Linked DNA regions of Homo sapiens: all the other regions are reported to be linked to region 2. The links are microRNA targets in miRTarBase. Many come from high-throughput screens and were not tested one by one. Region 2 holds a microRNA gene; each other region holds the end of a gene's coding sequence.

What was found. Region 2 holds the annotated microRNA hsa-miR-6780a-5p (UUGGGAGGGAAGACAGCUGGAGA, at 6,270-6,292, shown strand). A microRNA usually pairs through its seed, bases 2 to 8, with sites in the 3' UTR of a target mRNA and lowers its output. Matches are read on the target gene's strand: a 7mer-m8 pairs with bases 2 to 8, a 7mer-A1 pairs with bases 2 to 7 and ends in A, and an 8mer does both.
Region 1: the mRNA of GOLGA3 is a reported target of hsa-miR-6780a-5p. Seed matches in the 3' UTR shown: 7mer-m8 at 1,892-1,898, 8mer at 2,059-2,066 and 8mer at 4,368-4,375.
Region 3: the mRNA of KLC2 is a reported target of hsa-miR-6780a-5p. Seed matches in the 3' UTR shown: 8mer at 5,937-5,944, 7mer-m8 at 5,828-5,834 and 7mer-m8 at 5,781-5,787.

Annotation. Positions count from the first base shown.
Region 1 is chr12:132,764,406-132,774,365 of GRCh38, reverse strand. GOLGA3 (golgin A3) reads left to right here. Exons shown (of 24, transcript NM_001389683.1): 23 at 46-209; 24 at 1,072-5,452. The coding sequence ends at 1,261. Among named protein-coding and RNA genes, the nearest start is that of ANKLE2, 7.6 kb to the right of the region's middle. RefSeq lists enhancers at 2,365-2,564, 4,656-4,825, 6,294-6,343, 6,454-6,503 and a cis regulatory region at 4,740.
Region 2 is chr17:42,704,274-42,714,415 of GRCh38, reverse strand. MIR6780A (microRNA 6780a) reads left to right here and starts at 6,265; the gene lies at 6,265-6,332. EZH1 (enhancer of zeste 1 polycomb repressive complex 2 subunit) reads left to right here. Exons shown (of 21, transcript NM_001991.5): 11 at 1,027-1,207; 12 at 1,931-2,127; 13 at 4,479-4,570; 14 at 5,500-5,540; 15 at 6,333-6,458; 16 at 8,231-8,409; 17 at 9,233-9,328; 18 at 9,733-9,814. It also overlaps the pseudogene RPL34P30. RefSeq lists an enhancer at 8,926-9,566.
Region 3 is chr11:66,263,456-66,273,437 of GRCh38, reverse strand. It overlaps KLC2 (kinesin light chain 2), which reads right to left. Exons shown (of 16, transcript NM_001318734.2): 6 at 9,691-9,778; 7 at 9,486-9,587; 8 at 9,219-9,392; 9 at 8,994-9,093; 10 at 8,366-8,415; 11 at 8,203-8,270; 12 at 7,675-7,783; 13 at 7,426-7,584; 14 at 7,221-7,345; 15 at 6,948-7,005; 16 at 5,578-6,565. The coding sequence ends at 6,482. RAB1B (RAB1B, member RAS oncogene family) reads right to left here and starts at 4,799. Exons shown (of 6, transcript NM_030981.3): 1 at 4,745-4,799; 2 at 1,569-1,641; 3 at 1,186-1,281; 4 at 978-1,073. The coding sequence starts at 4,758. KLC2-AS2 (KLC2 antisense RNA 2) reads left to right here and starts at 5,027. Exons shown (of 3, transcript NR_186342.1): 1 at 5,027-5,139; 2 at 5,230-5,383; 3 at 5,607-5,889. LOC107984340 (a long non-coding RNA gene) reads left to right here. Exons shown (of 2, transcript XR_001748274.1): 2 at 846-1,281. It also overlaps KLC2-AS1. RefSeq lists enhancers at 353-1,552, 3,699-4,580, 4,741-5,070, 5,191-5,240, 5,541-5,590 and 1 more and silencers at 5,701-6,020, 6,041-6,090.

The DNA.
Region 1 (9,960 bases), not on the chromosome of region 2:
AGGGAGGGGACGGTGGGAAAGCTGATCATGTGCTTTTAAAAACAGAGAAAGGAGCCGAAAGGCGAGGCCAGCTCTTCCAACCCTGCCACGCCCATCAAGATCCCGGACTGCCCAGTTCCCGCCTCGCTGCTGGAGGAGCTGCTGAGACCACCGCCCGCCGTGAGCAAGGAGCCCCTCAAGAACCTGAACAGCTGCCTCCAGCAGCTCAAGTACGACCGTATTCCGTGCTGCACTTCAGCTAGTCTTAAAGATTAATGCCCTCTTACCTGGGAGGGCACTCCTGGTGCCAGTACTGAGTGCCCAGCAGAGTTTCAGCAGGTTTATATAAGGGTGGGGGACTCGCATACATAGCCTCTGAGGTTTATATAAGGGAGGGACTTGCACACACAGCCTTTGAGGTTTATATAAAGGGGGAAGGACTCAGCCTCTGAGGTTTATATAAAGGGGGAGGGGGACTCGCACAGCCTCTGTGGTTTATATAAAGGGGGAGGGACTCACAGCCTCTGCGGTTTATATAAAGGGGGAGGGGGACTCGCACAGCCTCTGAGGTTTATATAAAGGGGGAGGGGGACTCACACAGCCTCTGCGGTTTATATAAAGTGGGAGGGGGACTCGCACAGCCTCTGAGGTTTATATAAAGGTGGGGGAACTCGCACACACAGCCTGTGAACTCATAGGTGGAAACTGCCTGGAGTTAAACTACCCTGATAGGCCCTGAGAAGCTGGAAGGCCACACATGGTGCACCTGGCAGCCTGAGGCTGAGCGAAGTGTGTAGGGCGGAGCCAGGCGGCGCCCCGAGGGCAGGTAACGGAGTGGAAGTCGTGTGTGCCAGGCCTCAGTGACAGCTTCCACCCTGCCGCCTGGTCAGGACTGGTCCTTGAGCCTGTGTCCTCTGCACAGTGTAGAGAACGGTGCTGAGAACAGCTGAGCTTCTGTGGTCTCAGTTGGTTTGCGGATCCCCGAAGGCGCCCCGGTCCACTCAGGTGCTAGCGAGTGACGCTGTCCACAGGTGGCGCGTTCTGCCTGGCACTTGTGTGATCTGGGCCTTCTTCCTCCTTCTTCTGTCCCAGGCAGGAGATGGACAGCCTGCAGCGCCAGATGGAGGAGCACGCCCTGACGGTGCACGAGTCTCTGTCCTCGTGGACGCCGCTGGAGCCAGCCACTGCCAGCCCTGTGCCCCCGGGGGGTCACGCCGGCCCACGCGGCGACCCACAGAGACACAGTCAGAGCAGGGCTTCCAAAGAAGGGCCGGGAGAGTGACTGCTGTGGACTCGCCTCCGTGCGCCGCTGCCCCAGAAGGCTCTTATCAATGTTATTTATTTGATTGTGTGGTCGATGTTTTTCTAAGACATGAAATTTAAGTTTTGTTTTGCCTTTAACAAGAAGTAAAATATATAGCAGAATGAGAGCCAAGGACTAGAAAAACATTCGAAGATCACAATTAGCTTTTCACATGGAATGACCAACTCTTAAAAGCCTGATAGGCTCTCGGCGAGGAGCTTTGAACGTGTCTGAAGGGTTACTTGTAGGTCGTGGCTTCTGAGCGGCCACCGATGCTGCTCTCTGCGGGTGACAGGGAGAGGCTGCGTAACTGGGAGCAGCTGTGTGACAGGGTCTGCGGCACCGCGCCTGGCCAGGCCGGCTGCAGTTTCTCACTTCCCTGTTCCATTCAGTAAGAGCTTTACTTTTCCGCAGAAATGAAATTTTATCTGTACCTTTGGCTTTTTACTTGTTTTTTTGGATAGCCATCCCACCATAGGATGTGTACATAGATACTGAATATCATAATCCAATCTTTGTTTTTTTTTTTTTTTTTTTTTTGAGACAGAGTCTCGCTTTGTTGCCCAGGCTGGAGTGCAGTGGCACACTCTCCGCTCACTGCAAGCTCCGCCTCCCAGGTTCATGCGATTCTCCTGCCTCAGCCTCTCGAGTAGCTGGGATTACAGGCGTGCGCCACTATGCCAGGCTAATGTTTGTATTTTTAGTAGCAATGGGGTTTCACCATGTTGGCCAGGATGGTCTCGATCTCCTGACCTCAAGTGATCTGCCCATCTCAGCCTCCCAAAGTGCTGGGATTACAGGCGTGAGCCCCTGCGCCCGGCCTGTCACCCAGTCTTTAAGAAGCATATGCTCATGTTATTGAAGAAGAACCTACTTATTATTGATTGCCTTTTGAAAATTTGTTGGGAATAATTTACCTGCAGGATTTAGGGATAGTCAGAAAATTCTAAGAAATATAATTATTTTATTTACCTTCTAAAGCCAAATATTCTTACACAGAAAGGTCCTCTGTTGTTCTGGTTTTACTTTGTTGCTGAGGATCTTTCCTTCCTGCTGGTCTCTTCCTCTCAGGCCACTGGCCCTGTGTGATTCCACCGTGGCTGGCCACTGGGAAGGGGCAGCTTGGACCCTTGGTCAGGCCTGACGGCCATCAGGAGGCACAAGGACACTGAGGCCCCATATCTGATCTGACCTTTGGGGGGGCACAGGGAGAGGCCGGTGGAGGAGGAGGAGGAGAGCAGACCAGGGGCTCCCTGCAGCGACTCCCGCGGTTTCCCCTGGAGTCAGCCAGGTGTAGGTCGCAGGCGGTAACAAACCTCACACTCCTGTTCCCCAAGTGAAAATCTTTACCATTGTCTGTGGGAGCGCCTGTACTCGTGTGTAGGAGCACCTGTACTTCTGCAGTCATCGAGAAGTCCTGGATCTTTTGTGGTTACACCAGCATCATGTGGCAAGCAGAGGCGACTTCCGGAAGAGACAGGCAGGCACCGTGAGGAAGGTGGCTGTGCTCTCCCAGGTGTCTCAGAGACAGATGCCTTATTTAAAATCAGCACGACATGTGTGAGATCTTCTGTTTCCTACCCCAAATCCTGAAACCCTGCAGACACTGGCTGACTGGGAGAGGTGGGGTCTGTAAGTTGTCCCCTAGTTTGCTAAGAAAATCTAAAATAATATTTATTATATGAGTTAGGAGAGAGAGAATGGGTCCGCGTGGCCTCCTCTGCAGATGTACTGGTCTGAAATGAGGTTCTGAGTCACTGGCCAGGCCAGATGTGCTCATGTCGGTGTCTGGTGTCTGTTTTGTGGAGAAAACAGTATGGTGTGTTTTAAGCTATTTGTGTTCTGTTGTAATATACTTTTAGAAGGTTAATTGGTAAGGTTAAGGTAGCATTAACCACAAAGATGTTTGGTATTTAAAAAATATTCTCTAGCAAATATTGGAATTTCCAAAATATATCATTTGTACAGGGTTAATTTTGAAATAATACTTGAAAATTTCATTATAAATATATCCTACTTTTTATCTTAAGTTGAAGATGTTATTTACTAAATTGTTCTTGTACCATTAGAAAAAAAAATACGGCAATTTACGTTCTTATTTATTTTGGCTGTACTACCCCTTTGTTTTAATTTTAAAATCAAGAAATCGGGCCGGGCGCGGTGGCTCATGCCTGTAATCCCAGCACTTTGGGAGGCCGAGGCGGGTGGATCACCTGAGGTCAAGAGGTCCAGACCATCCTGGCCAACATGGCAAAACCCCGTCTTTACTAAACATACAAAAATTAGCCGGGTGTCGTAGTGCGCACCTATAATCCCAGCTACTTGGGAGGCTGAGGCAGGAGAATCACTTGAACCCAGGAGGCGGAGCTTGCAGTGAGCCGAGATCGCGCCACTGCCCTCCAGCCTGGGCAACAGAGCGAGACTCCGTCTCAAAAATAAATAAATGATTTTAAAAAATCTAAAATCGAGAAATCACACATTCAGTGGGGAGCGACTTCTCCTTGCTTATGGGAAGTCCTCAAGTGAGTGATGTTCACCATGTATTTTTTTTTCTCTTAGGACAGACTAATTCTGAAAATACCGAAGGAAAAGTAGCTCTATGTTCTCACCCCGGTTTTCCTGCGTGTGTGCCCTTGGGTGCGATGCCTCCCCCAGCGCTCTGTGGTCGCCGGTGCCAGGGCCCCCTCTGGTTTGGCAGGGCCTGGCTGCCTTTGCTCCCTGCAGTGAGTCTTTTGGTGTTTTCATGCACGGCTTGTGCTTCTGGATCTGAGGCCTCTCGTGTTCACGCGGACACTTCCTTCCTTAAGAAGACGCCTAAAAGAGGAAGTTGGAATTTTTTTTTTTTTTTTTTGAGACAGAGTCTCGCTCTGTCGCCCAGGCTGGAGTGCAGTGGCGTGATCTCTGCTCACTGCAAGCTCCGCCATCTGGGTTCAAGCGATTCTCCTGCCTCATTCTCCCCAGTAGCTGGGATTACAGGTGCCCGCCACCACACCAGCCTAATTTTTGTATTTTTAGAGGGGTGGAGTTCCACCATGTTGGCCAGGCTGGTCTTGAACTCTTGACCTCAGGTGATCCTGAGCCTCAGCCTCCCAAAGTGCTGGAATTATAGGCGTGAACCACCGCCCCCGGCTGCAGTTGGATTTTTAAATTGCTTTTTTTTATTGTTGAGGTTTTTTTATCTCCAAGGGACTCTCCCGGCACTTCTACCTTCCAGAGTTACTTCAGTGCATAAAGTTTGAATTATTTTGTTCTTGTGGGCAGAAGTGGGAATGATGGAATATCCTCACGGAAAAGGCAGTGAAGTTGGGAGTACTGCTTACAAAACAGGGTCACCAGTGCATTATGTGGCGTGTTCATCCCCACGCCGTGTGTCACGGGCTAGGGCGGCGTGTTCATCCCCACACCGTGTGTCACAACAGGCTAGGGCACTTCACGATGTCACTACTTGTTTTTCTGATGTTCCAAAAACAACGTAACTTGGTTTTCATGTGTTTTTCCGTGGTATATGTGAGATTGATGCTACGGGTCTTACGGACTCACACCCGTTCCCACTCTCTGCAATATGGATCAGGCAGTGTTTCTGATAGGATGTGAAATGGACTCTCCTCGGGTGGGTCCAGCAGGGGCCCTGCCCACCAGAACACAGTCCGTGCTGTGCTGCGCTAAGGAGCTGGCCCTCAACTCTCCTTGGTGCAGGGTTCCCACAACCGAGTTCTAGTTCCCTGAGGTCTTTAAAAACAAAAACAGAATGTTGTACGTGAAGATTCTAGGAGGGGAGGGACCAGCAAATCTGAGAGAACCGTCCTGGGGCCTCCCTTCGAGGAGCCCTCTGATGTGAGGAGGGACTTGAGTTGAGTGACGCTGTGGTGTGAGGTGTTCTGAGCTCACTGACCGGAAGGTCCAGGTGAATCTCGTCATAAGTGATCTCAGGCTCTCACAGGATCCGGAGGGAAATGTGTTAGAGGGTCTGGAAAATTCAGTGCTTTTGAGTTACTTGTTTTTATTAAAAATTTCCTCACAAAAGAGAGTCCTCAAGTTGTGGCTGTTCTTGGGAAAGGGGTCACCGTGTCTGACAAAGTGTAACTTTAAAAAGCACGTTGATTTTTTACAAATGTAAGTGTGCTTGGGAATTCCTTAAATTTTGTGCAATAAACTATTTTTTGGTAAAGATTTTCATATTCATTGGAAGCTTCATTTTAATAGTTATATTTTGTCGTTTGGCAGTAACTTTTTAATCTCATGTTATTACACACTCTGTTCAACACGTGCTTTAAAAGAGAATTCTACTGTCCTGCCGGTTTCTGGCAGGAGTGAAGCAAACTTCTGTGGCTTGTGACCACGGCAGACGCGCGGCACCGCCTCCTCCGTCCTTGGCCCACGCTTCGCTTTGCCCGTTGTCATTTGCCAGGAATACAGAAGGAGGGGGAGCAAGCTTCCCGGTGAACCGGGGAAGGATGGTGACCGCTCTGTGCTGCGCCTCCTGAACTGGGTCTCATCATCCAGGTGCTGCCCTCTGCTGGGCCTCCCCGGTGACAGTGGAGTCATGACTCTCAGACCTCAGCAATGTGACTTCCCAGATTCTCGTCTTTTTCATCCATACTTTGATTTTGGTCATTAAGAGTTAACCAGGCGTAAGCTGGGTGTGGTGGCTCACGCCTGTAATCCCAGCACTTTGGGAGGCTGGGAGGGGGTGGTCACCTGAGGTCAGGGGTTCAAGACCAGCCCGGCCAACATGGTGAAACTCCACCTCTACTAAACAAAAAATTAGCCAGGGCGTGGTGGCGGGCGCCTGTAATCCCCACTTGTCAGGAGGCTGAGGCAGAAGAATCGCTTGATCGGGCAGAGGTTGCAGTGAGCCGAGATCACACCACTGCACTCCAGCCTGGGTGACAGAGCATGACTCCGTCTAAAAAAAAAAAGAGTTAACCAGGTACAGAGTTTTCAGTTAGACGTTATTAGAGGCCACCATGGTTTAAAAAGTACAGAAAAGGGGCAGGAAGTGGTGGTCGCTGGGCTTGGCCCTGTGGGATTAATGCACTTCTTCCTGTGAGCGTTACCAGCTTCTGTACCCAGAGAATTGCTACACAGAGTAAAAATTCCCTGACCACCTTCTGTGGCCTTAACTTTCTGAAATATTAAGGATATAATTTTTTTTGGTCTATAGAACCCTTAAGGGGACATGTATGTATCTGAACTTTTTCCTTTTCTCCATGGAGTTGCTACGTGTTTGCAGGCACTGCACTGACAGGTATATTTTAAGCTGTGTCTGTCTCAGCAGCTCGAAGCTCCACGCTGCGTCCTGCTACAGAGCTCAGCAGTGGGTGTCAGGAGTGGTTTTGGCAGAGATGAATGGGTCACTTCTTCCTGGCTTAGAGTGGCGGCAGGTACTGTCAGGAATTTGGGTTGAGTGTAGGACAGAGGACGTATCGCTGATGGGAGGCTCAGGATTTTTTTTTTTTTTTTTTTTTGGAGACGGAGTCTCACTCTGTGGCCCAGGCTGGTGTGCGGCGGCGCGATCTCGGCTCACTGCAAGCTACGCCTCCCAGGTTCACGCCATTCTCCTGCCTCAGCCTCCTGAGTAGCTGGGACTACAGGCTCCCGCCACCACGCCCGGCTAATTTCTTTTTGTATTTTAGTAGAGACGGGGTTTCACCGTGTCGGCCCGGATGGTCTCGATCTCCTGACCTCATGATCCGCCCGCCTCGGCCTCCCAAAGTGCTGGGATTACAGGCATGAAGGAGACTCAGGATTTAAAAATTACCAGGTCACTCAGAAATCTGAGACCTCGGGTAGTATTAGGAAGCAGGCCAGGCACAGTGGCTCATGCCTGTAATCCCAGCGCTTTGGGAGGCTGAGGCGGGTGAATCACTCAAGATCAGGAATTTGAAACCCGCCTGGCTAACATGGTGAAACCCCATCTCTACTAAAAATACAAAAATTAGCCGGGCGTGGTGATGGGCGCCTGTAATCCCAGCTACTCAGGAAGCTGAGGCAGGAGAATTGTTGAAGCCGGGAGGTGGAGGCTGCAGTGAGTGGAGTTCGTGCCGTTGCACTCCAGCCTGGGCAACAAAGTTGAGACTCGAGATAAAAAAAAAAAGCAGGAAGCAGATAATGGGGGAAACTAAGACGACTGCACTTCCGCCGTCTAGCTTGATGGATAAACATGACAGTTGCTGGCAGCGTCCCCAAGCCTTTCCCAGATGACGAGAGCAAGTCCCAGCACTTGGTGGCGTCTACAGTCGGGAGCATTTGTTGGAACTTGGCGGCCTCTACACAAGCTTCCGTCTGAGGGGGAATGTTGCAGGTTGCGATAAAGAGCATACTTGGGCAGTGGCCTTTCTCCTGGACACAGGGCAATGTTAAACTGCTGCTGGGCCGCCTCTGCCCATGTTTGCAACGCCCTCTGCTCGCCTGTGTGTGGGGGCGTCCTACAGCCCTCCTCCTGGCAGTGCCCTCTTCACCTCTGTGTGGGGGTGTCCTACAGCCCTCCCCCTGGCAGTGCCCTCTTCACCTGTGTGTGGGGGCGTCCTACACCCTTCCCCCGGCTCCACCACTGGCTGCCGGTGACCTTCACAGTGTCCACATCTCTAAGTTCTGACTCCATCTGAAGTGAGGGCTGAAGGTGGCGGAACCTCTGGGAGGCGTGAAAGCCGACTGTGGGCGCCCAAGGCAGCTGAGGGCTGGCGATGCCCTCGTTACTGATGAGGTGGGAACCTCTAGCCCCAAAGGCAGCATGTCCTGGTGGCACCTGGGGAGGCAGCTCTGGGAGCACCACCAGGACACCCATCTCCGCGGCCATCGGCTCAGGGATTTGCGGGAGATTGCTGGGCTTTTCTACACATCGTCGGGGTTGGATTTCACCTTCACATGAAATAGATATATTTTGAGACGGAGTTTCACTCTTGTTGCCCAGGCTGGAGTGCAGTGTCTCGATCTCAGCTCACTGCAACCTCTGCCTGCCAGGTTCAAGTGACTCTCCTGCCTCAGCCTCCAGAGTAGCTGGGCTTACAGGCTCCCGCCACCACGCCCGGCTAATTTTTGTATTTTCAGTAGAGATGGGGTTTCACCATTTTGTTCAGGCTGGTCTTGAACCCCTGACCTCAGGTGATTCACCTGCCTCTGCCTCCCAAAGTGCTAGGATTACAGGCATGAGCCACCGCGCCCGGCCCACAGTGAAATATTTTTGAGTGTCATGTCTAAATGCCCTGAAACCCAGAGAAGGACAATCTTGTCTCTGCTCGCGGAGCCTCCCACAGCACTTCAATTGTTGCAAGATTTCCTTCTGAGCGTTAAACGTGCATTTCTGGAGACTGGATAGATACGTCAAGTGTATCTTCCCAATGCTTTCAAAAATGCCCCCATCTTCACCCAGAAAACAGACCCCCCCCCCCCGCCACCTGCCTGTCCCTGCAGCTGGGCGTCTGATGGTCACGGCCGTAGCTCCCCTGAAACCCCTCATTCCCCTGCATCAGCCCAGGTCCCACCAGGTTCTGGAGCCTGTACGTTTCCACTCAGGGCCGTTATCTCCACCTGAGGGCCTCTGGCGTCCTGCGGTTGCCGTCCCTGCCCCTGCATTTCCTCTGCTGAACCACTTGGCCTGGGCTGTTTTCCTGACTAGACCCTACTGTATGTAACATACGGCTGGGTTTCTACAAGTGCTAAATAGCCATTGATAACAAACTTAATAGACACACGGCCTTTAAGGAAATCCAATTAATATTGAAAAAGAAGGGGAAGAAAAGAAATTAGCTACTCCCTGCTCATCTAGGGCTTTTCCCAGCACGTTGGGAGTAAATCCTCGAGCTGTGAGACTTCAGCTTCCGCTCAGTCCCTGGGGCTCACATGGCCCCTTTGTGATCTCGGATCAGAAATGAAGTAGAAGTTAAATTACAACTAGGAATAAAATCAGGGCTGGGCGCAGTGGCTCACGACTGTAATCCCAGCACTTTGGGAGGCCGAGGTGGGCGGATCATGAGGTCAGGAGATCAAGACCATCCTGGCTAACGCGGTGAAACCCCGTCTCTACTAAAAATACAAAAAATTAGCCGGGCGTGGTGGCGGGCGCCTGTAGTCCCAGCTACTGGGGAGGCTGAGGCAGGAGAATGGCGTGAACCCGGAAGGCGGAGCTTGCAGTGAGCCGAGATCGCGCCACTGCACTCCAGCCTGGGCGACATAGCAAGACTCCGTCTCAAAAAAAAAAAAATTCAGAACGGCTCTCAGAAGAGGCCATTGATTCTAATAAGCTTCATTTTGTTCATTCACCGGAAATCTACTTCTACCTGCAGGAGTTTACGTCTCAAAGTTTTTCATTTCTACCTAAACAGTAGCTAATATAGGGTTGGCTTCTGAACAGTGGAGTTGTTCTCCATGTTTTCCTGTGATTGTTCCTTTCTCATTTAACTGGGAGTGGATGCATTACATGGGGGTGAGGGCATGGCCCTATCAGGACCCTGGCTGCTTACCTGGATTCCACAGAAGTCCTGGTGTCAAGGCTGGTGGAGCTGCTGCACCAGAGACCCTCAAGCATGAAAACAGGATTGACCAGGACAGCCTCACGGTGCCGAGAACGAAAGTGCCTTCCCTCTCCGCTAATCCACAGCGTCCACCTGCCCGAGAACAGCTCTCCCAGTCCCACCTTCCGTCCCGCTCTGAGGTGAGCGGGGAGAGAAAAGACAGGA
Region 2 (10,142 bases):
TTCCCAACCCTCTTGGTATAAAGGTAATCAATTCTATTACCAGGGGCTCAGGACAGCCTAGTTTTGTTAAAAGCTATATTGTAGGAAAGCCTACATGTATGTCAAATGCTGGACCATTCTGAGTGCCTCTAGACAATGTCACTGGAAGATAAACCTTTATTTTGTAGAAATAGATTTAGTTTTCAGAAACAGCTAGGAAGTCTTTGAAAACCAAGTCTGATGAGAAAATATTGATGATCTAGGTGAGTGATAATTATTTCATTTTTTAAAAAAGGGGGTGATAGCTGTAAAATAATGAAACAATATTCTTCTGAGTTTCATACACAGATTTGGGAGGAAGTTTCAAAATTAAGTAGTAAGATTGTACAGATTAAGCATTACACATTTTATTAAGGAAACAGAGAAAGTGTGGTAGACTGGAAAGAATAGTGGCCTAGGGAGACAAGGAGCCCTGATTCCTATACCCCTCTGGAACTATTAGCTGCATACTCTCAAGCTAGTTTCTTCCCCTCTCTGAATCTCATTTCTTCATCCATAGGAGAATGTGTTCTCAAATTCCAAACAAGTAACACGCAAGTTAATTTTAGATACAACTCACTGGAAAATTGAAGACACAGATGCATAGATTATATCTTTTTTAAGATTATAGGACATTAGCTGGGCATGGTGACATGTGCGTGTGGTCCTAGCTACTTGGGAGGCTGAGGCAAGGGAATCACTTGAGCCCAGGAATTCGAGGCTGCAGTGAGCAGGCCTCTGCACTCCATCCTGGGCAAGAGAGAGAGACCCTGTCTCAAAAAAACAAACAAACAAAAAAACATTATAGGACAACTCTTTTGTGAAAAAGTACGTAAGTTTTGTTAAGCAGCTCTCATTGTTATATGATCATACTTATTATATGGTACAGAGAAAAAGAAAAGACACTATTATTGTAGACAGATGTTGTAAAGATGAAAGTTTGTGATGATGAGATCAATATGGTGATGGGCCTGTTCCTATTTCCTGTCTGTAATGTGTCCACTGCAGGAAGGAGCAAAGGAGTATGCCATGCTCCACAACCCCCGCTCCAAGTGCTCTGGTCGTCGCCGGAGAAGGCACCACATAGTCAGTGCTTCCTGCTCCAATGCCTCAGCCTCTGCTGTGGCTGAGACTAAAGAAGGAGACAGTGACAGGGACACAGGCAATGACTGGGCCTCCAGTTCTTCAGGTACGATGAACAGAAAATGAAGACTTTTTCTTTCCATGCAAGGACTCTGGTAAACCCAGGATCACTGCCTGACACTTAACTTTACTACCTCTTAAAAATTATAAATTCTTTCTACAAGTTTTGTAAACAGTAAAGATGGGGAATATTTTCTTTTTTTTTTTTTTTTTTTTTGAAACAGTCTCTCGCTTTTTTGCCCAGGCTGGAGTGCAGTGGTGCTATCTTGGCTCACTGCAACCTCCACCTCCCAGGTTCAAGCGATTCTCCTGCCTCAGCCTCCCAAGTAGCTGGGATTACAGGTGCCTGCCACCACGCCCGGCTAATTTTTATATTTTTAGTAGAGACGGGGTTTCGCCATGTTGGCCAGGCTGGTCTTGAACTTCTGACCTCAGGTGATCCGCCTGCCTCGGCGTCCTAAAGTGCTGGGATTACAGGCGTGAGCCACCCTGCCTGGCTAATTTTTGTATTTTTAGTAGAGACAGGGTTTCGCCATGTTGCCCAGGCTGGTCTTGAACTCCTGAGCTCAAGCAATCCACCCACCTCGGCCTCCCAAAATGCAGGGATTACAGGCGTGAGCCACCATGCCTGGCCTAAAGATAGGGAATATTTTCATTCCTAACTGTTCTACCTTTTAAAGTAGAATGAAGTACTTCTGAGTTTGTGACAAACTACTGATGACAACTGCATTCTACCTTCTTCTGATTCTGTTATTTCTTCCCTTCTCAGAGGCTAACTCTCGCTGTCAGACTCCCACAAAACAGAAGGCTAGTCCAGCCCCACCTCAACTCTGCGTAGTGGAAGCACCCTCGGAGCCTGTGGAATGGACTGGGGCTGAAGAATCTCTTTTTCGAGTCTTCCATGGCACCTACTTCAACAACTTCTGTTCAATAGCCAGGCTTCTGGGGACCAAGACGTGCAAGCAGGTACCATCTGGAAGCAGCAGAACAAATGGGCCCCTCCTTTCACGCATTGCTCTGTCCAGCCCTTTGCCATCTTACCAGGCTGTGTGTCTGGGTCTGGAGAGAAGTTGTCTTAAGTTCAGTCCCTGATGAGCCTGTGCTTCTGTGAGTTTCCCAAACATGGCCCTTCTGCAAGTGCCAGGCCTAATGATGTTTGGGGACCCGCCTCCTCCTTGCTGAATGCTCATTTCTGTCTGGACTCTATTTAATGCTTCTGGGTCCTACACTCTTTCGCTTCTTTTTTTTGGCTCTGGCCTCCTTTCTAAATGTGTACCCCTTTCCCAGAAGGGACTCCCAGGTCTTTCTGTGGCTCTTGTTAATGAGCACACTGCTGCTGCTGCTGCAGCTGCTGCAGCTGCTGCTCCCTCCACCACTCCGCCAGCCTCTTCAGTCATTTTATTCTCCACATTTTCTATCACTAGATTATCTTTATTTTGTCTTTGAGACAGGGTTTCACTGTGTCGCCCAGGCTGGAGTGCAGTGGCATGATCATAGCTCACTGCAACCTCCGCCTCCTGGGCTCAAGCAGTCCTCTCCCCTCAGCCAAGCAAGTAGCAAGGGACTACAGGTGCAGGCCAGTATGCCCAGCTAATTTTTTTTTTTTTTTGAGACAGAATCTCGCTCTGTTGCCCAGGCTGGAGTGGTGCAGTGGCATAATCTTGGTTCACTGCAACCTCCGCCTCCCAAGTTCAAGTGATTCTTCTGCCTCATCCTCCCAAGCAACTGGGATTACAGGTGCCCACCACCACACCCAGCTAATTTTTTTTGTTTTGTTTTTTTGAGATGGAGTCTCGGTCTGTTGCCCAGGCTGGAGTGCAGTGGCATGATCTCAGCTCACTGCAGCCTCCGCCTCCCAGGTTCAAGTGATTCTTCTGCCACAGCCTCCCAAGTAGCTGGGATTACAGGTGTGCACCACCACGCCCGGCTAATTTTGTATTTGTAATAGAGACGGGGTTTCACCATGTTGGCCAGGCTGGTCTCAAACTCCTGACCTCAGGTGATCCACCCGCCTCGGCCTCCCAAAGTGCTGGGATTACAGGCATGAGCCAATGTGCCTGGCCATTTTTGTATTTTTTTTTAGTAGAGATGGGGTTTCACCATGTTGGCCAGGCTGGTCTCAAACTCCTGACCTCAAGTGATTGGCCCAGGAAAAGACAGGAAAAGACCACAGTGAGAAGACAGACTGAAGAACAGGGACAAGGAGGCAGCTGTCAGGGCCAGCATGTCCAACAGGAAAGGAACCCCAATGCTTTGGCTTCCTACCTTCTGGAGGAGACTCTGTGGCCTCTTCTTCATGCTTCCTGTACTGAGAACAATTAATAGAACCATGGACTGGGCAAGGTGGCTCACACCTAGAATTCCAGTGCTTTGGGAAGCCATGGTGGGAGGATCGCTTGAAGCCAGGATTTCAGGACCAGTGTGGGCAACAAAGTGAGACCCCATTTCTACAAAAAAAAAAAAAAAAAAAAAGCCACGTACCTGTAGTCCTAGTACTCAGGAGGCTGAGGTGGGAAGATGGCTTGAGCCCAGGAGTTCTATACTACATTGAGCTATGATGGCACCACTGCACTCCAGCCTGGCCAAGAGTATGAGACCCTCTCTCTTAAAAAAAAAAAAAAAAAACAAACAAAAACAGAACCATGAGCTGAAGTGCCCTTTGCTTTCATTTTGGAGCTCATACCTATTTCCCTGATCACAGGTTCTCAACGTAACCATCTATGGATTTGTATGCAAGAATGTTCTTGTCTGTATTTTCCTGAGAATAGTTACAGTTTTCAAAGATCCCCCACAAAGGGCCAATAGCCCCAACAAAGAAAAGGAAAAACTAAAAACCAGTGCTTTAAGAGAAAAAACACATCCTATTGAAATGGCTGAGGCTCCGGTATCTTTATACTGACAGAGGGAGCTAATATTTAGCCCACTGAAACCATTCCTGTCCTGTCCTGTCCTGCCTTACACTCAGTTACACAAGGCACAGCGTTGCCCTTCCTAAAAAGAAGAAGATACTGTTGGTCACAGTCAGCCCACTCTTCTACCCGTGGCTTGGTAGAAAGAGTAGTAGGTGACAGCTTCTGACCAGGGGCGGTATTACTGTGCTCAGTATTTCTCCTTTCCTGAGTCAGGATAAATAATTAGGAATGAACTTCAGAGCCAGTAACCCAATGTTCCAGTGGCACTCTGTCTCTCCCTGACTGATGAGAGGCTTGGTCAGCTGCCTGAGTTTCTCAGAACCCTCCCAAGGCCAGCACCCAGCTGGGCCACTTACCTGACCCCCTTGCTCGAGGAGTGACAGGCCCGTTGGATTTCTCTTCCAGGTCTTTCAGTTTGCAGTCAAAGAATCACTTATCCTGAAGCTGCCAACAGATGAGCTCATGAACCCCTCACAGAAGAAGAAAAGAAAGCACAGGCAAGAAGGGTTGGACAAAGTGTTTTGTTTTACAGCCAGGCTGTTCCCTGTGCTCTGACCTCCCCTTGGAGTTCCCATCTGCCTCCCTCTTTAGCAACCGCACAGGCTGTGTGAGCCCATCAGCTTGGCATCACATGACTGAGAGCCAGCCTCCTGAGTGCTCCCTGAGGGTCTGTGCCTTAGATCAGCCCTCTTCTTGTCCCCCAGTGCTGTGGACCATAACTGTCTGTTTTTCTATTTAAGCTTCTGGCCAATAGGACATGAGCTGGCCTCATGGCTCCACCCTGAAGCCATTTCTCCTTGTTGGTTTTGTTACCACCTTACCCATTTCTCAACTCTGATCAGAGTTTATTTATTTGTTTGGTTTGTGTTGTTTTTCTGAGTTACATGATAGCCTTTACTTAGGTTGGAAGTTTTTAAAAAAATTCTGCACCCTGGCCCTGTTCCCTAGTGACTATCACCTATCAGAGGAAGGAGCTGACACCACTTCTAGATACAGAAGGAAATCCCTGTGGCTCCTCCCTTTCAGTTCTTTCAGAGAAGATTCCTGAAAGGCCTTCCCACCTCCCCATCTTGAAACTCCCCCATATCTCCACCTCCACAAAGACAAAGGGAGAGATTTGGAGAGAAACAATAGCTTTATAATAGACCAATAGGCTTGGGCTTTCTTTTATTTCTGTGTTGTGTTCTTTTATGTTATTTGCTTGTTTGGGAGGGGTTGTGTTTAAGTTTAACTCTTGTAGCACAGGCCAGCTGGATTTAGGATGGACTCTAGCTTCTGTGTACCAAAGTCGTCCTGTTGAGGGGTTTGGGAAGATACTCCCCAGTCATCAAACACAGTCCCTCAGAGCAAGTCACGTTGTCATTTACCTGCATTTGCAGAGCTCCCTAGGGCCGTGACTGAGACCTGTCCTTCCTGTCTTTTTCAGATTGTGGGCTGCACACTGCAGGAAGATTCAGCTGAAGAAAGGTAAGTTCTACCAGGGCATTCTTCAGCAGTTCAGCTGGAGGCCTCACTCTGTGGTCATCACCCTACCCCACCTCCAGCTGCACTTGTTGACCCTGTGCCACTTCCGCAGATTGCAGAATTCTCTGCAGCAACTGAGAACAGCTGAGCCTCTCACTGCAACTGAGAAGACCTCTTAGGAGGTAACATTAAGGGCCTTGTGGTCTGTGATTTTTCTTTTTTTTGAGATGGAGCCTCGCTCTGTCACCCAGGCTGGAGTGCAGTGGCACAATCTTGGCTCACTGCAACCTCCGCCTCCCGGGTTCAAGCAATTCTCCTGCCTCAGCTTCCCAAGTAGCTGGGATTACAGGCATGTACCACCATGCCTGGCTAATTTTTGTATTTTTAGTAGAGACGGGGTTTCACCATGTTGGCCAGGCTGGTCTCGAACTCCTGACCTCAAATGATCCACCTGCCTCGGCCTCGCAAAGTGCTGGGATTACAGGCGTGAGCCACTGTGCCTGGCCAGTATGTGACTTTTCTAGTGTGCCATTTGCTAGGTTCCAGACCTCATTTAATGTTTAGAATAGCTTCCCTGTTGTCCCAGACCATCTCCACACCCTCCCCACAAAGCAGATCACCCCACTGCAGCTTATGAACAACGGTCATCCCTGTCTTCTCACTTCAGGTGCTAAATGTGTGTCCAAGGAGATTGTTAGGACCAGCCTCCTCTGAATCAGGGCAGCTGGACACTTGGGAGGGAAGACAGCTGGAGAGTATGGTCACAGCAGCATCCTCCTCTGTTTTCTTTCCTAGATAACTCTTCCACACAAGTGTACAACTACCAACCCTGCGACCACCCAGACCGCCCCTGTGACAGCACCTGCCCCTGCATCATGACTCAGAATTTCTGTGAGAAGTTCTGCCAGTGCAACCCAGACTGTAAGTGTGCTACGTTTTCTGTATAGTCTACCAAAACAGTTGGCTCCAGTGTGCCCTAGGCTTGCCCCATTCCTGTGCCCTTTACTGCTTATGGCCTTCTGATATCCCCTTTGCTGTGTTTTAGGGATTCTACAAATGAAATAAGTGCATGAGATCTGGGAGAGTCGTTTCTGGAAAACGTTTAGGTTCATGATTCTAAAAGCAGCAATTACACAGAAATCAGATACTTTCCCAACTTTGTCTTCTAGGGGAGAATTAAGAAATGTGGGGGGCAGCAGGCGCAGTCACTCACGCCTGTAATCCCAGCACTTTGGGTAGGCGGATCACTTGAGGTCAGGAGTTCAAGACCAGCGTGGCCAACTTGGCGAAACCTCATCTCTACTAAAAATAAAAAAATTAGGCCAGGTGTGGTGGCTCACGCCTATAATCCCAGCACTTGGAAGGCCAAGTCGGGCAGATCACTTAAGGTCAGGACTCAAGACCAGCCTGGCCAACATGGTGAACCCCGTCTCTACTAAGAATACAAAAATTAGCCAGACATGGTGGTACATGCTTGTAGTCCCAGCTACTTGGGAGGCTGAGGCACAAGAACTGCTTGAACCCAGAGGGCAGAGGCTGCCAGTGAGCCAAGATTGTGCCACTGCACTCCAGCCTGGGCAACAGAGCAAGACTCTGTCTCAAAAAGAAAAGAAATGTGGGACTCTTTTTTTTTTTTTTAAGTTACAGCCCCAGTTTCCCTTTTCTGAATACTGTTTTAAAAAATTTTTTATTCAGATATTTTTTGTTTGTGATTCTGTGTATGTCTATTTTCATTTCATAGCTGGAGTTTTAATATCAGGTAGAAGACAGGGGCCTGGATGTCAGCAGAGACATCCGGGTACTTATCTTTTACTTCTTATCCCACCATGCCCTTCCCAACTCAAAGCTGAGCAGTTTGATGGCAGTCCCCACAGCTTGCAGAACTTGGTGCCCAGGCGGTTTTGCTGGAGGAAATACCTCCTAACCCATAGCAGATAGTGATCTTAGCCGCAGCAGAGAAGTGGTTGCGCTGGGTTGGGCAGTGGGTGGAGAAGGATGGCATAGAACGGATGCATTCTGTTCTCAAAATGATACTTGTTTTGATGGTGACAATTTACCAGTGAAACACACTGATTTCATATTCTCTGGGGTACTCTCCACCTCAGTGGGAGGGAGAGGATTGTTGGGGAATCTCTAGGGGACACTTCTTATTAGTATACCTGCTTTTTTTTTCATTTTTTAAATTTTTTTGAGACAGGATCTCAGCTCTGTTGCTCAGGCTGGAGAGAAGTGGCACAATTATGGCTCACTGCAGCCTCAACCTCCCTGGCTCAAGCCATTCATCCCCCTACATCCATCAAGCCTGGGACTACAGGCAGGTGTCACCACACATGGCTATTTTTTTTTTTAATTTTTTTGTGGAGACAGGATCTCCCTATGTTGCCCAGCCTGGTTTTGAACTCCTGGGCTCAGGTGATTCTCCTGCCTTGGCCTCCCAAAGTGCTAGGATTACAGGCATGAGCCACCATGCTTGACCACACCTGCTTTTTTGACTCGAAGGCATGAATGTTGGGAAGCACTCAGTTTTCTATGGACAAAACTTGTGTATTTGATTATTGGGAAGGGAGCTTCCTCTTATTTTGCCAAACATCCTTGAACACAAAAAATTTACTTCTTTGCTGTCCCTTGAGTCAACCACAAGCCCCAGTATTAGCTTATTTCCCTTCTAAGACTTACCTGTCTTCCCTTCCCAGGTCAGAATCGTTTCCCTGGCTGTCGCTGTAAGACCCAGTGCAATACCAAGCAATGTCCTTGCTATCTGGCAGTGCGAGAATGTGACCCTGACCTGTGTCTCACCTGTGGGGCCTCAGAGCACTGGGACTGCAAGGTGGTTTCCTGTAAAAACTGCAGCATCCAGCGTGGACTTAAGAAGGTGAGGCCTTTCCTCAGGACCCCACACCACATAAAATGGAGGGGGAAGGAAGGAACGGTCCCAAGCATTCTCTTTCCACTGGTTCTTTTGAGGCTTTATATGTGAAAGTGCTTGATAAATCCTAAAAGACACATATTTACTGAATTAATAAAGGCTTCAGTCCCAGTAGGGCTTAGAAAAATGGTTCCTGGCCAGGTGTGGTGGCTCATGCCTGTAATCCCAGCAGTTTGGGAGGCCGAGGCCAGCGGATCATGAGGTCAAGAGTTCGAGACCAGCCTGGGCAACATGGTGAAACCCTGTCTCTACTAAAAATATAAAAATTAGCCAGGCATGGTGGTGCATGCCTGTAATCCCAGCTACTCAGAAGGCTGAGGTAGGAGAATCGCTTGAACCTGGGAGGTGGAGGTTGCAGCAAGCCGAGATCGCACCACTGCACTCCAGCCTGGGACAGAGTGAGATTCCATCTCCAAAAAGAGAAAGAAAAGTGGTTCCTTGAACTGGCCAGACAAAAAGGAGCTGCGAGGTGTATGCACCTTTGGTGATGTCTATGTTTACCTCACACATTGCAGTGAATTCCTATAGACTAAGGCCCAGGAGGGCTCCATGGATAAAGGAAGAGATATCCTATTTCCGTTCGTCACCACCTCCCATTTTCTTTTCTCTCCCAAGCAGAAAAGAATGGGTTAGACCTTTTTCTGCTTTCAGATCCTCTTAACAGTTGCTGGTTCTTTCCACCCCACCCCCACCACACATGTGCACATCCAGCACACACCCCCTACTCATGCACACCCTGTAGTCTGAGACTTGGCCCCCTCTTCCCCAGCACCTGCTGCTGGCCCCCTCTGATGTGGCCGGATGGGGCACCTTCATAAAGGAGTCTGTGCAGAAGAACGAATTCATTTCTGAATACTGTGGTGAGGTGAGTGCTATAGTTTTGGCCCACATTCTTACTCGGGGGAGACTGATGAGAAACTCTGATTTTCTGTGGGCCAGGCTTCTTTGAATTAATCTCTAAATAACTCAGCTGTGTTCTCACGTGGCCTCTTGGGGAGATCCCACAGAACCGTTTGCAGTACTGAAACCACTGTTCAACTCTTTGGCAACTCCAGACACAAGAGATGAGGGGGGCTCTTTTCAGCCTTAAAACTGGTTGGCCTGGGTGGGAATTGGAACAGCATAACTTGAACTTGCTCTCTTGTGATTCTCATCATGATGCTCAGTAAGCACCCATGTGAGATACCACCCAGCCCTTTCTGGGGGCAGGGTACCATGCCCTGAGCAGGCAGCCTGATACTCCTATTTGTTATTTGTCTATCTCTCTAGCTCATCTCTCAGGATGAGGCTGATCGACGCGGAAAGGTCTATGACAAATACATGTCCAGCTTCCTCTTCAACCTCAATAATGGTATGAAGTCACTTTGTCTCATCCCAAGGTGGTCTTTTTTTTTTTTCTTTTTTTGAGACGGAGTCTTGCTCTGTTGCCCAGGCTAGGGTGCAATGGTGCGATCTTGGCTCACTGTAGCCTCTACCCTCTGCCTCCCGGGTTCAAGTGATTCTCCTGCCTCAGCCTCCCGAGTAGCTGGGACTACAAGCACCTGCCACCATGCCCGGCTAATATTTTTGTATTTTTAGTAGAGACTGGGTTTCACCATGTTGGCCAGGCTGGTATCGAACTCCTGGCCTCAAGTGATCCACCCGCCTCGGCCTCCCAAAGTGCTAGGATTACAGGAGTA
Region 3 (9,982 bases), not on the chromosome of region 2:
CAGTGTCCAAAGCCACGAGAGGTCAATGTGCTGAAATAAGATCACTGGATATATGGCAGTCAGGTGGGCCCTGGTAACTTGTCTGGGTGGTATGTAGCTTCCCCACAGCTCGTCCAGAGCTGGGGACATCATGAGTCCCTGGTGAGCTAAAGAGCCCGGCTGCTCCTCAGACAGGGACTCTTCCCGGCCCACGGCTGATTTAAGCTTCTCCTTATCTTCAGGGATTGGCCCTGTTAAGCAACAACATTTGGTAGAAAAAACAAAGCAGGTGGAATGAGCCATCCAGGCTTTCTGCCTCTGCCACCGGACTAGCTGAAGGACCCTCGGCAAGTCACCTCACCATCCTGAGCCCAGCTCCTTACCTGTGCGATGGGAACACAGACCTCTTCTGAGCATCAGAGGCAATCTGAGGGCTGGGCCAGGTTCTGTAAACTATAAGGTTTCATGGAACCATTTCCAGCCCTTGCTACCACCACTGCTAGTCACATGGGACTAACGCTGCTGCTGGAGGCAGAGCTTCTGGATCTCTGCTCACATTGGGCCCAGAGCTCAAGCTTCCCTGCTTCTTTGTCTAAGGCCCTCTAATTGTCCCCCTGCACTGTGTCTTCACACAGGAAGCCACAGGCCCAGCATAGCAGCCAACCGCCTGACTAAACTCCCACAACACAAAGGTGCCCAGAAGGTCTACAATAAGGTGGCAAGTTTGGCTTGGTGGGGAGGGAAGGTGTGAGGCCTTGTCCTGCCAGAACCTGCAGCAGGGCCTTCAGAGGATCCATTTCTGTGGCTGTTTCCCTCCTTGTGAAATGAGTCCAAGTACAGTCACCTATTTTTTTTCTTTTTCCTAGTTAGTTCCTGTAAGCAGACAAATAGTGTCCTTTCCAGGAAGCATCAGGAAAGAGAGGATGGAAGGAGGAAAAAGAAGAGTCAAAGACCTAAGGCTAAGGAGGCCAAGCTGAGGATGGCTAGTCCAGGAGTACCTGGTCAGTGACGTCATACACCACGATGATGCCATGAGCCCCCCGGTAGTAGCTGGAAGTGATGGTCCGGAACCGTTCCTGGCCCGCTGTGTCCCACTAGGAGACAGTAGGCAGAGGAGCAGGTCAGCTGAGGTCCAGAGTCCCAGAGTCCCTTCCCTCCCAAGGTGGATACCTCTGTACTGGGGATTTTGGGAAGAGCGACACTCACGATCTGAAGTTTGATAGTTTTGCCATCCAGCTCGATGGTTCGGATCTTGAAGTCCACCCCGATGGTGCTGATGTAGCTCTCTGTGTACGTGTCATCCTGAAAGTTCAGGGGCCAATGAAATCATGGGAGTTAATGAGGTGAGGCCCACTTGGAGAGCCTCCCTCCAGTTCCCTGCCCCAGCTGGGTCTCCGAACCACCAAGCCCCAATTCCCAGCACTCAGCTGGCCAGCCCTGTCTTGTTCAGGGCAGATGTGCTGGTGGCAGGTCTTACAGCTTCACCCCTGGTTCCCAGATCTTGCAACTACTGTGCTCTGTGTTGTCCCTTCTCCCCCCAGCTGCCAGTCAGGACCCCAGGTGGATGGTATGGGAGGCTTCTTACTCACAGCAAACCGCAGGAGCAGGCATGACTTGCCCACGCCTGAGTCGCCAATCAAAAGCAGCTTAAACAGGTAGTCACTGGAGAGAGAAGATGGGAAGGCGTGAAGGGAGGCAGGGAGCCCACCTACCATCATCCTGGAGTCACAATTACAGGATTCCCCCACCCCATGAGGCATCCCTTGGTTTATTTTTATTTTTTTTTTAGCAATAAGGTCTCACTCTGTCACCCAGGCTACAGTGCACTGAAGTGATCACGGCTCATTGCAGCCTCTACCTTGCGGGCTCAAAGTGATCTTCCCACCTCAGCTTCCTGCGTAGCTGGGACTTCAGGTGTCCACCACCACCACCACTTCTAGCTAATTTTTTTTTTTTTTTTTTTTTTTTTTGAGACTGAGTTTTGCTCTTGTTGCCCAGGCTGGAGTGCAATGGCGCGATCTTGGCTCACTGCAACCTCTGTCTGCCGGGTTCAAGCAATTCTCCTGCCTCGGCCTCCCGAGTAGCTGGGATTACAGGCACCTGCCACCATGCTTGTCTAAGTTTTGTATTTTTAGTAGAGACAGGGTTTCACCATGTTGGCCAGGCTGGTCTCGAACTCCTGACCTCAGGTGATCCACCTGCCTTGGCCTCCCAAAGTGCTGGGATTACAGGTGTGAGCCACCACACCCGGCCCCTGGCTAATCTTTTCATTTTTTGTAGAGATGGGGTCTCACTATGTTGCCCAGGCTGGTCTCAAACTCCCGGGTTCAATTGATTCACCTGCCTTGGCCTCTGAAAGTGCTGGGATTACAGGGGTGAGCCACTGCGCCTGGCCATCCCTTGGTTTAGAATACTATGGTGCTCACCAGATCTTCCCAACAGTCCCGGTCAGGGAGGGCTGATGCCTCCCTCCACAAACAGCTAGCCCAAAGGGCTCTCAGCTTGCTGAGTCTAAATTCTCACTTTATGGAGAAAGAAATCAAGACACGTGACCTGCCAAGGCAACAGAGCTGGGTATCCTAACCTGATTTCTGAAACTTCATGGTTTGGTCCAGTAGGAGCTATTTAGGGAATCCCCAGTACATGCCCTGCGTGTGCCTAGCTTGGCAGAGAAGGCCCCAGAAGTAGAAGCCAGGGCCCAGCCTAGAACCTATTAAGTTGAAAACCCACGTAGAGAGACTGATGGCTGGGTGCTGTGGCGTGTGCCTGTGGTTCCAGCTACTGGGGAGGCTGAAACAGGAGGAGGATCCTTGGAGCCTAGGAGTGTATGACCAGCCTGGGTGATGCAGCACAACCCCGTCTCTCTTTTCTTTTGTTTTTTCGAGACAGAGTCTCGCTCTCTCACCAGGCTGGAGTGCAGTGGCACGATCTCGGCTCACTGCAACGTCCGACTCCCTGGTTCAAGTGATTCTCCTGTCTCACCCTCCAGAGTGGCTGGGATTACAGGCATGCGCCACCATGACTAGCTAATTTTTGTATTTTTAGTAGAGACGGGATTTCACCATGTTGGCCAGGATGGTCTCGATCTCCTGACCTCGTGATCCACCCACCTCGGCCTCCCAAAGTCCTGGGATTACAGGCCTGAGCCACCGCACCCGGCTAACCCCATCTCTTTGGAGACAACAACAACAACAACAACAACAACAACAACAACAACAACAACAAAAACCTGTTATGAAGTCACCAGGAAGAGGTGGTCAAGTTGCAGTGAAAATTGCACTTAAGGCTGGGTGCAGTGACTGACACCTGTAATCCCAACACTTTGGAAGCCCGAGGCACGAGAATCATTTAAGCCCAGGAGTTTGAGATCAGGCTGGGAAACATATCGAGACCCTGTCTTTACAAAAAATTAAAAAATGTGCCAGGTGTGGTGGTGTGCCTCTGTATTCCCAGCTACTCAGGAGGACAAGGCAGGAGGACTGCTTCAGCCCAAGAGTTGGAGACTGCAGTGAGCCATCGTCACGCCACTGCACTCCAGCCTGGGTGACAGAGAGAGACCCTGTCTCAAAATAAAAAAAAAAAAAGGCAAAAGGTAATCACATTTAATATACTTGAGTTCCAACCTGTGGACGGACCCTGTGTGAAGTACTTTAAATGCATCATCTCATTTAATCTTCACAACAGTTCAATGAAGTCAGTTTTGTCATTGTCAACTAATGAGGAAACCAGAGGCCAGAGAAGGGAAGTGACTTGCCCTAACTTACACAGTTTATCGCTTTAAGACTCAAACCAGGTTTCTCAGACTCCAAAGTCCCTTCGAGAGCCTGCTGGTTCCCTTCTCTGTTCCCCTCCCAATCCAGCTCAGAGCTTCACCCTTCCCCAAGGAAATCTGAGACCTGGATGTGGAGTAGAAAAAGGAAGTGGCAGAAAAGGAAGAAGATAACTGATACTTGGGGAAAACTATTAGTCCTGGGCATGAGATGTGGGCCACCTACCCGCAGGGGGAGTGACCAAGAGTGAGGAGAGTTTGAGGACCAGAGAATCCCACAGGAAGGGGGAGAGCAAATTCCATATTCATCTAAACTTCACAGGCAGTGTGACAGCCAAGGGAAGGGGTGTGACGGTGGCGTTGGGGGCCTGAGCAAAAGCGAGGAGAGGGCGGGAAAGGACGGACCGGCGGGAGCGACAGGACAGCGCGACCCAGGCAAAGGGTAGGAGGCAGCCCCGGAAGAGAGGACCTGCGGGAGACGCGACCCAAGCGGCGCTTCGGGGCCTCCCGCGTAGTTGGCTAGCTTCTGGGCCGGCCCCAGGAGCCGGGCTTCAGGAGAAAGAGAAGGGTAGAGGGATTCACTGCCCGACCTAAAGGGCCCAAGCCTGAACCCGAGACCAGAAACTATCAAGACGGGCTCCAAAACTCCGGGACAGTTGTCAAGCAGCAGGTGGGGAAACTGAGGCCTGAAGTGACCGGGACTGCGGGGTCATCTGACCGATAAGGCCTGGTAGGACCGATGTCTCGAGCTCCAAGAGCTGCCCCTGGGGGTCGCCACGTCTGGGCCCCGGGTGCGAGGGCTCGGGGTTTTGAGCCGGGGTCCTGGGGCCCCTGGGGGGAGGGGCAGAACCCGGATGTGGGGGGGGGTCAGCGGAAGAGGGACCCGGATGTGGGGGCGCCGCACAGTCCTGACCCGGGCCAGACAACCCCGGTAAGCGTACAGCCCTGTATTCGGGATCGAGGCTGCGCTGGACGGCGCGGGCGGGGCTCACTCACTATTCGGGGTTCATGGCGGCGGCGGCGGCCCGCTCGGTCGCTCCCAGTCGACTCTGCTCCGCCTCCCGTTCCAAGATGGTGGCCGCTCCGCCCCAGAGGCCCCGCCCGCGACGCGCAGGCGCAAACGTCTTCTTCTCAGGCCTCGCCGCGCTGATTCCCGGAACTTGTAGTCTAAGACGTTCTCCAACTCAGCCCCGCTGCGCAGGCGTAGTCGGGGAGCCCGCGCCTCCGCGCCCACTCCCATCACTGCTGGCGCATTGCCTTCTGGGGCTTGTAGTTTGCACTCCGGACGCACTCAGGCTTGAGGACAGTGCTGGAAAGCCTGACCGCGACTCGGTGTTTAGAAAGCTCAATTTAGGGCTGGGCTTGGCACGTTTCACATCTGTCTGACGGAGGTAGTCATCCTTGCCCTCCCAATACCCACGTTGTGAACATTAAATGAGAATGTGGGTTCTAGTAAGACTAATAAAAGTACATTTGTCCAGGGTTCTTCGTGTACTGGGCAGTCCTAACTCGCAGCCGCGCGTCATCACCCGCATTTCATAGATGAAAAAACTGAGTCTCGGGAAACTCACTCAAGGTCAAAAACTTTGTGAGGAGCAGAGCTCATAAGAGCCCGCGGTCTCCAGAACCCCACAAGTGAGTGTTTTAGGGAAAGCCTGACTTGTGGGCCCCTCACGCAATTCCGGGGTGGGGCACAATATCTGGGCCCAGCTGCGCGGACAGCGGTTGAGCGAGACACACTGTCCCCCACTCACGCACGACCCTTCCCGGCTCCACCCCAGTCTAGAGACGCTGGGGGCCCCCGACCTCCGTCTCAAAACAAGCCCAGCTCAGATTTAAACCGTCTTTATTTCTACAGCAACATCTGAAAATATGAGAGCAGCCGCCTCACCCGCAACAGGGGGAGCCCCTCCTGCCACCAGGGGACCGTCGCCGCCCCTCGCGAGAAGCTGCAGGCGTGGGGGGAGGCGAGGCAGGATGGCTCGGTGGGCGGTGCCCGGGGCGGGGTCGGCCGTGCCTGGGCGGGGCCGGGTGGGAGGGGCAGTGCATAAGGCCGGGATGCGGGGCAGGGCCCGGCGGTGGGAGGACGGACTAAGGGGAGGTCCCCGTCCTGGGCCACGGGGCGATGGCGCGGGTAGGACGCATCCCTCAGAGGCCAGGAGGAGCGCGAGAAGGTCCCAGGACCCCCTTGGGAGGCGCCGCTCCCGAGAATGTAGAGCCTGGGAGATACCACCGCACGGAATGGGGGTGATTAAGGCCTGGGCGGTACCACTAGAAGAGGGACGAGGGGAGGCCCGGGTAGTACCGTGGACTGAAGGGAGGCGCGCGGCCAATAACTTATTTCTCTATATACAGAAGCAACGGCCGGGTTGAGTCGGGAGGGAGGGCGAGGGTGCCGAAGGGCCGGCGAGTGCTTAGTGTTCTTGGCTCTGGGGTCTGGGGAGGCCAGGCCACTGAGTCTATGGTGGAGACTCCAGCCGGCACCTCCTGCTGGCCCGAACCTAGGGAAGAGGGCCCTGCTGGAAGGAATAAATAAGGGATGGAGCTGGAGTGGGCAGGCCCAGCCTCCAGGGCTCAGGCTGAGATGACAAGGGAGAAGGTTACCCTGAGATTGAACAGAAAAGACAGGGGCTGTGGGAGAGACAGGCGGGACAAGCAGCAGGCCCATGCGCAGGGCTGGGGTGAGGGGGGTGTGCCAGGTGGGCGCTCTGGTGACTGGCTGCCCCTTCAGCATTAGCCCACCAGGGAGCTTCGTCGGGAGAGGTCCATGGAGCTGGAGCTGAGAGTGCGGCTGTCAGAGAGACCTGTGCCTCCAGGCTGTGGGCAGAGGGGGCAGGTGGCTCAGCCCTGTGCTGCTGCCAGTCTGTGCCTCCCTGGCCTGAAGGGGTCTGACCTGGCAGAGGCAGCCGGAATCCCTGAGCTGGGCAGAGGCAATGGCAGTTCTGACCCAAGGCCACACCCTGGTGCCCTGACACTCCCGTCCATCTCCACAGTGACGGTGTTAGCACTGGCCGTTTACACGTCCACCCCCAGGAGAGGCTGGGTTCCCCTCGTGTCTCCCCGTTGTCCAGCCCAAAGTAGGCCTGAGACAGAGCCAGGAACTGTTGCTGGATGAAGAGGCATGCTGGAGGGAAGCTTGGCAGCACGCATGCAGCCCCGGCCGCAGCTGCCCAGTGCCCAGACACCCGCCTGCCCCTACCTGGGTCGGCTCTTCCACGCTCTTGTTGAGGAAGTTGAGGGAACTGGCCCGCTTCATCCTGAGGGAAAAGGACAGCCTGGGATTTGCCCAAGGAGGAACTCACGGGAGATGGGGGCAGGGAGAAGGGTGGGGCTGGGGAGGGAACAGACTGGTGGGTGGTGGAGCCTGAGAGGGATGGGGAGGTTGCCTGGGGTCAGTGGGGCACACTCTGGGTCAGGAGCTCATCCGGGGTTGCTGGGTGGTTCTTGAGGCTCACCTTGGTGGGGGGCTCACCTGGGGTTAGGGGGCTCCTGGGGGGTGCCCCCCTGCAGCTTCTTTACCAGCATCTCACTGCTGCGCCTCAGGGCATCCCGGAGTTTCCCAAAGGAACCGCTGCGCCTCAAGGAGCCACTGCCATCCTGCAGGTGGACAGGCTTGCCTCTAGGCCCCGCTGGCCACCTAGGCTCCCAGCCCGACCCGGCCCAGGCCCCGGACTCACCCCATTCCACTCAGCTGTAGGTCCCACGTCCTCGAGGTCAGACTCAGACCGAGGCCCGGCACCCCCAGCCATGTCTCGGCTGCTGCGGCGGTCTCCCCGCCTGCCACTGCCATCTTTCAGCAGTTCTACCACCTTGGTCTGGCTTGCGGGGTCCAAACCCTGAGGGAGGGGCAGGGGCATCAGGCAGTGAATGGACCACACCCAGGGCCACACAGGTGTCTGCCCACCCCCTCCTGCATGGAGCCCCACCTGCTTGCGGTTACGGCTGGCACAGTCCTCTAGTGTGTGCGCGGCTTCCAGCTTGCCCTGGCGCCGGTATAGGGCCCCCAAGCTGCGCAGGGTGGTGTTGACTGTGGGGCTGTGGATGGGACAGTCTCAAACTCCATGTTCCCCCAGACCCAGGGCCCATCCTGGCACCCAGCCCACAGTGGGCCCTGAGGAAGCATGGACCTCCGGGGTAGCCAGAATCCATTCCTTCCCATGTCAAGCCCTGTGCTGGGCCCACCCAGCCTCTTCTGTCCTGGGGAAATCACCCCAGGGCTGGGGACCTGGCCCCAGGGCCCTCATGGGATGTTGTCACCAGGACCAAAAGCTGGGAGACCCAGAGCCAGAGAATTAGGCTGAGAATTGGGAGACAGAGCCTTCTTGGGACAGGTGACCTGTGAGTTGGGCCTTGCCAGATGAGCAGCAGAGGAGGGGTGTGTTGGGGGTGAGAGTATGGAATGTGGAGCCCGCCCTGCCGTGCCCTGCTCCCCAGCCCAGCCCCGCCCCACTCACCTGTCTACTTTACAGGCCTTGTACCAGCTGCCGTATTCCCCATAGGGGGCGCTGTCCCGGCGCTTATCCTGGAGGAAAGAATGGTCACAAGAAGTGAGAGCAGGCCCCCCTCTGCACATCCCAGCCTCCCCTGACAACCGCCCAGCCTGCCCCACAGAGCTACCTTGCTTTCCTCCCGCTCCTCTGCGTGCATCCAGATGGGCTTGTTGTCCCCTGGGGAGAGAAAGGGGACTGTCACCAGCCTACCATATAGGTCTCACCTGGTTGGGCTGGACACAGGACTGGGGTCAGGGGAGGGGAGACCACGGTTGGGCTTCGTTGAATGCATGAACAAGAGTAAGACCCAAAACACTGCTGACCCTCTTCTGGACAGAGATGAGCAGAACAGACCCTTGCACCTCAGGCCACAGCCCAAGACATGTGCTAGGCCTGAATGATGGGCCAGGCTCCGAGGGACTCAGGAGCAGATGACTGACCATCCGGGGCCAGAGGTGGTTTCCCAGAGTGGGAGACACTGGGGCAGGCCCTCAAGGTGAGCAAGAATCGCCAGTGGAGAAGGGGGATGCAAAGGCGTGTGAGGCCCTAGCAGGCCAAGGGGGCTGCGTGAGTTGGGTGTGTGCTCATGTGTGCAAACGTGAGCACAGGTGGCTGGGCACCATCTGAGGGTGAGGCTGGTGACCAGCCAGGCCAAAGCCTGAGGGCCTGCCCTGCTGAGGGATTTGTCCTGGGTGCTGATGGCAGAGTGGGCCTGGGATGGATGGGCTAGAGGCACCTGGTGACCACGCACTCACCATTGACAGAGCCAAACTCTTTCTCATGAGCGCGGGTGAGGATCTCCTTGTACAAGGTCTCCGCATCCTGGTACTTGCCCTGCTTCAGGTAGCAGGAAGCCTGGAAGCGGGAGACCCAGAGAGTGAGCGGGATGCATGCAGCCAAGCCTTTTTCTCTCCTTCTTCCCCAACCTCATCCCTGCCTCCCTCCTTCCCATCCTCCAGCTCCTCTCAGCCCCAAGGTACCAGGTTGTTCTTGGTCTTGGCCACATTGGGGTCATCGGGCCCGAGGCGTGTAGCATAGATCTCCAGTGCCCGCCGATAGTAATATTCCACCTCCTCAGCTTTGCCCTGGTTCTGGCACAGCAGGGCCAGGTTGCTGAGCTGCTTGGCCACATCTGGGTGAAACTTGCCCAGGACCTGGGATGGGAGAGGGAGCCAGGGGTTGGGCTCAGGGCTGCCCGGGCCCCTGCCTCCCAGACCCCCAGCCTGCCCAGCCCTGCCTGTTCCCACCTTCTCCCGGATCTCCAGTGCCCGCTTGCACAATGGCTCAGCCTCCTTGTACTTGCCCCTCTTGCCATACAGGACTGCCAGGTTGTTTAGTGTCGCAGCCACCTGGAGGTGGGAGAACGGAAGCTTCTTGACTCAGGCCCTGCAGGACTCTGGGACCTGCAGGGGATGGGGCACAGCCCCCACCTCCCACCCAACCCTCACTCACGGCTGGGTGGTCCTTGCCCAGTGTTTTCTCCCGGATGGCCAGAGCATCATTGAGCAGGTGGGCAGCCTCCTTGTACTTGTTCTGATCCCTGGGAGCAGGTAGGAGCATGGTCAGGGCTGTCCTCCAGCTCAAGGCCCTCCCCAATGGTCTGCAATCCCTGTGGTCACTCCTGTACTCACTGAGTGTGTATGACAGAGTGAGACCCAGAGTGTGGGGAGACCTGCTCAGCTCCTGCTCTCCAAGCTCCAAGGGCTGTAGGCAGTTTTCTCACAATTGGCTGGGGTGCGCAGTG